2 linked regions of the Homo sapiens genome follow. The protein of the gene in region 1 purifies or fractionates together with the protein of each later gene. This does not show direct contact. Each region holds a gene or a part of one and is shown on either strand. Other genes may lie near its edges.

Region 1 (3,152 bases):
CCCACATTGCAGCAGACGGAGCAGGGCGCACTCAAGGCGGGCAGGCCAGGGCCGGGCTGCAGGGGAGAGGGGAGAACCCCACGGTGCTGGCGCTTGAGGTGGCGGCCCAGGCTGGAGCGTGAGGAGAAGCGGAGCTCGCAGACCAGGCAGCAGTAGGGTTTCTCACCAGTGTGGACGACCTAGGGGTGCGGGAGGAAGGGCACAACGTCAGGGCTGAGAACCTAGCCCGGACAACGGATTCCTGGACTCCCAGAGGGTTGTGGCACAAGCTCTCTGTCACACCTACAGGGCCATGATCTAGGGAAACGCTCGTCCTATCACTCTCTGTTTGGGGTCACGGTAGATTCTTTCGGTCCTTAAAAAGGCCATGTCCTGGCTGGCCATGGTGGCTCACGCCTGTAATCCCAGCACTCTGGGATTGCATAAGCCTAGGTGTTTGAGACCAGCCCAGGCAACACAGGGAAACCTTGTCTCTACAAATAATTTTAAAAACTAGCTGGACACGGCACACTCCTGTGGTCCCAGCTACCTGGGAGGCTGAGCCAAGAAGTTTGAGGCTGCAGTAAGCCGTGACCATGCCACCACATTACAGCCTGCATGACAGGGTGAGACTGTGTCTCAAAAAAAACAAAAAAACACGACTGGGTGCGGTGGCTCACGTGTGTAATCCCAGCACTTTGGGAGGCTGAAGTGGGTGGATCATTTGAGGTCAAGAGTTCGAGACCAACCTGATCAACATGGTGAAACCCTGCCTTTACTAAAAATACAAAAATTACCCGGGCCTGGTGGCGGGTAGTCCCAGGGACCTGTAGTCCCAGCCACTCAGGAGGCTGAGGTAGAAGAATCACTTGAACCCGGGAGGTGGAGGATGCAGTGAGCCAAAGACGTGCCACTGCACTCTAGCCTGGGTGACAGAGCGAGACTCTGTCTCAAAAAAAAAAAAAAAAAGCCCGGGTGCGGTGGCTCACGCCTGTAATCCTAGCACTTTGGGAGGCCGAGGCGGGCGGATCATGAGGTCAGGAGATCGAGACCATCCTGGCTAACACGGTGAAACCCCGTCTCTACTAAAAATTCAAAAAATTAGCCGGGCGTGGTGGCGGGCGCCTGTAGTCCCAGCTACTCAGGAGGCTGAGGCGGGAGAATGGCATGAACCCGGGAGGCGGAGCTTGCAGTGAGCCGAGATCGCGCCACTGCACTCCAGTCTGGGCGACAGAGCGAGACTCTGTCTCAAAAAAAAAAAAAAAAAAAAAAGAAATCACTATCGGTGGCTAATGGCTATACTGGACAGTGCAGCTCTAAAGTGACACAGCAGCCAGCCCTAGCAGGGTGTGTCTTCTCCCTTGTCAAGCCCTGCTATCCCGAGCCAGTTATCATGAGCTGAATACAGGCCTTAGGTGTGTTAGGGCAGAGAAGTGATTTTGAACCGAATCCGGCTACTGCTCAGAGTTTCTCCCACTGAACGCTTTTCACACATACAGATCCAGGGAATCACTTCCAAGTCTAGGGAATCGAATCTCCCAGGAGGGAGTCCAGGAATCTGTATTTTTTTCTGAGGCATTGCCAGGCTTGTAGACTGTGTAAAACCGTGCCTTAGAGAGGTTTTTTGTATTGATATTTGTCCTTGTTGATTTAAGATTTTGGAATAACAGAGAGAGATTTGTGAGTATGGTAATGTCTTCCTGGAGGCCTGTGAGGAGAAGGGTGAGGCTGGATGAGAAAGAGTGCAGTGCTTGATTAGTAATGTCTGCCAGGGGCACAGATCTGAAGAAGGAACAGGGAGTGATGTTCATTTGCCTTTCTGGCTCCAGACTCGATGCACCTGCTGTACAGTGTGGGTGTAGGGATCTCTATCCTCTTTGTCACTAAATTTATTCTCTCTCTACTCTTTTAACACAACAAGATTATGCTGGTCCCAGGGCCCTTGTACATGCTGTTCTCACTGCCTGGAATGCCCGTAGGTCTATTTATCTGTCAGCTCCTTGGAAACCCTTCCCGGAATCTGGCCCCCTGGCTCATCAGTGATCCTCTTCCACCCTCCTTCTTTAAAGCCTATGGCTCATAGCACACTTAGTGTCTACATATAACTTGAGTGTTGTCTGTCTCCCCACCAGCTAAGGACGATAAAAATAGTGACCACATTGGTTTTGCTCACAGCTGTATTTCCAGGGTCCGGCACTCTCCAGACTTCTCCTGAGCCACACTTTCTGCTTCTCCATGCTCCAGTCACATTGGCCTTCCTCCAGTTCCTCCAAAGCCTGCTTTGCTTCCTTGAAAGTACACATTTTGTTCCCTGGATCCGGAAAGCCTCGGACCCCAGAGGCAGATCATTCCTCACCTTTTTCTCGGGAAAACCATCCCTGACCCCATCCCCGATCCAGACTGCTTCAGCTCTCTCTTGCATTAGCCTCAGAATATGGTTATCCTCCATCCTCAGATGTCTCGGCTGCAGCCTAACATTGATTAACCTAGTTGTTCAGTTCACATCTCCCACATTTGACTCGAGGCCATACAAAGGGTGGACTGTATCTGTTTTGTTCCCTTAGCTATTTTTTTTCCCCCAGAGAGCCTAGCACTGTATCTAAATACAGTAGGTGCTCCTGAAATGGTTCAGTTGAATCACAACCTACTGGTGGGTGGGGGTGAGGCCCCTCAGGGGACTGTCAATTGTTGCATCAAGCTAAGGAGCTCCCCTTTCATCCTAAGGATCAAGGGATTTAAGCAGGGGTCACCTGGTCACTCTGTGATAGATGCAGAGACTGGATGTGAGGGAGAGAGACAGGAAGGAGGGAGACCACTGAGAAAGCCGGGGCCAACATTCAGGATGTGAAGTCCTGAACCAAGGCAGATGCATGGGGACAGAGAGGACAGCCAAGTGTGAAAGACCATCGGTAGATGCCTGGTTTTCTTCACCCTGGTTGTGCAAGTGTCTGGCACATAGACAGAGTGTGACCTAGCCCGTCCCATCTTTCACCTTACCTCCTTCCACCCCAACCCCACAGTCTCCCATCGCTTCCTGGAACACAGCACACTCCTTCCTTCCTCAGGGCCTTTGCACTTGCTGTTCCTGCTGCCTGGAATGCTCTTCCCAGGGAGGATTCCTCACACTGCAGGTTGGCTCAGGTATCACCTGCCCTAACCTTCCCCACCTGTCT
Region 2 (2,585 bases), on another chromosome or scaffold:
ACTCGCTTGAACCCAGGAGGTGGAGGTTGCAGTGAGCCGAGATTACTCCACTGCACTCCAGCCTGGGCAACAGAGGGAGACTCTGTCTCAAAAATAAAAATAAACATAAAATAAAATACTTAAAAAACAGAGTCCAGAGGTAGTAATGGGGAACTGGGGAGAGAATCACTGAAAGATACCGTCCTGGCTACAAAATCACATGGAAGATGCAAGGAAATGGCTTGAGGTCCTCTACCCCACTGTCACTCCCCATACCCCCGACAAAAAAGATAACTAAATAAACAGACTGATGGATGGATGAATAGAAAGAGTGAGCAAGCAGTTGCTTGGATACATACTGATTCTGTCAATTCCTATGATTCTAAAACCTCTTAAGTAAACACTTTAGAAACTTTTCCAAAGTTTTGAGTTTTGTAAAAGAAAGAAAGGGAGGGAGGGAAGGTAGTTATATTCAGATTAGTATATATCTTCATATTCACAGTAAATATTAAATTATCTGAGAAATCCTAGATGAATCTGTTAATCGGTTCCTTTTGGTTTATGGATCCATAGAGTTGTTATATTTTTTACATTTTTATATTTAATTTCCCTCCCTCCAAAAAAAACTTTTTTATATTGACCTAGCCTGGTTTTTCTCAAGTTATTTCATTAAATCCTTTTTTAGTATGGGATATGTTAATTTTTTTTTGCTATAATATTATTCCAAAACAGTTTCAGATATGTGTCTCTATTTTCTCAGCAGCTCATTAACAGTAAGTAACCTCTTTAAGTTGGGCTATGTCCTAGGTATACAAAGTGCACAGTCTGTCTGCTCTGTCAAATATACTGGAAAAGCATGATTATTGTTCCCTTCTATTGTTCTAACCTTGGCTCAGTCCCCACACCCTACCCTGACATAACCTCTTAAATGGAATTGTAGTGAGCTGATGTCCAGATTATAGTTGAGCTCTTATGTTTTACAAATCAATGTTCTAGCTAAGTAGGAATAATAGCCTAGTCCAGCATTGTCAAATGAGAATATAATGCAAGCCACGTATGTTACTAAGTCTTCAGAAATCCAATGTGTATTTTACCTTTACAGTACGTATCAATTCAGACAAGTTCTCAGTAGCCACATTGGCTGGCTAGTGACTACTGTAATTGGATAGTGCAAGTGTAGTCAGGATATAAAAGGGAAAAAACGGAAGTAATTCATAGGAAAAGTGAGGAAGAAATTTTCCATTTGTTTTTTGGTTTTTTGTTTGTTTTTTGAGACAGGGTCTTGCTCTGTTGCCTAGGCTGGAGTGCGGTGGCACAATCTCAGCTCACTGCAGTCTCTGCCTCCCGCGTTCGATCAATTCTTGTGCCTCAGTCTCCTGAGTAGCTGGGATTACAGGCATATGCCACCAAGCCCAGCTAATTTTTGTATATTTAGTAGAGACAGGGTTTCCCCATGTTGGCCAGGCGGGTCTTGAACTCACTTCCTAAGGTGACCCACCTGCCTCAGCCTGCCCAGCCCAACAGAGTATTAAGCAACATCTTGGAAATTAACAGGAATAGTTTTATCCTCGTTTTATCAATAACTTAAGATGTTTACATTTAGGGTAAATGATCCATTTAAATTTTGATTTTTTTTTTTTGAGACGGAGTTTTGCTCTTGTCACCCAGGCTGGAGTGCAACGGAATGATCTCAGCTCACTGCAACCTCCACCTCCTGGGTTTAAGCAATTCTCCTACCTCAGCCTCCTGAGTAGCTGGGACTACAGGTGTGTGCCACTTATGCCCAACTAATTTTTTTTTTTTTTTTTTTTTTTTTTTTTTTTTTAGTAGAGACGGGATTTCACCATTTTGGTTAGTCTGGTCTCAAACTCCAGACCTCAGGTGATCCACCCACCTCGGCTTCCCAAAGTGCTAGGATTACAGGCGTGAGCCACCGCGCCCGACCAAACTGTTTTATATCTTGAATTTTGAGATTTAAATGTTTGAAAGAAGACTACTACCACTACTCTTAGTAAAACTACTAAATAGTCCTAAATGTTAAAATAACTGAGAGTTATAATATCACCTTCTAAATATTAAAGTACTGGGTTTTATCATTAATGTCTTCTGTATAGTCCCAGTATGGGAATATTCCTTTTTAAATTTGAAAACTTTTTAGTAATAAGGTACCAGGCAAGTTTTTATAAATAACATCAAATATGGTATTTTTCCTTTCCTTTTTAATGGGAAACAAAAGGAAAGTGGACACTTAAGTTATGCCTGTCCGAAAAATATGCTCGGAGAACGTGAGCCTCCAAAGAAGAAAGAAAAAAAGAAAAAAAAGAAAGCTCCTGAACCAGAAGAAGAAATGTATGTATATTATTCTTACTAAATACATCATCATGTTGCTTTTGTCTTTTGGTTGGTTGCTTTTGATTATTGGTTGGTTACATTCCAATTTGTTTTTCTTTATTTAAGTGAGGAAGTAGAAGAAAGTGAAGATGAAGGGGAGGATCCTGCTCTTGACAGCCTCAGTCAGGCCATAGCATTCCAGGTATTAAATTGTTCTTTTAAAAGGCATCATACAATAGTTGACTTGGTTTATAGTGCTTGCTTACTTCATTGAT

The links.
Region 2: the proteins of FIZ1 (region 1) and ZCRB1 purify together in Homo sapiens (co-immunoprecipitation; one large-scale study listed by IntAct). This does not show direct contact.

The regions. Positions count from the first base shown.
Region 1 is NC_000019.10:55,593,468-55,596,619, forward strand, and holds part of FIZ1 (flt3-interacting zinc finger protein 1), read right to left. Parts: exon of another isoform or gene 2,429-3,152; coding exon of another isoform or gene 2,153-2,428; intron 180-2,152; coding exon 1-179. UniProt on the Homo sapiens protein: May be a transcriptional repressor of NRL function in photoreceptors. Does not repress CRX-mediated transactivation.
Region 2 is NC_000012.12:42,313,617-42,316,201, reverse strand, and holds part of ZCRB1 (zinc finger CCHC-type and RNA-binding motif-containing protein 1), read left to right. Parts: intron 1-2,215; coding exon 2,216-2,328; intron 2,329-2,436; coding exon 2,437-2,512; intron 2,513-2,585.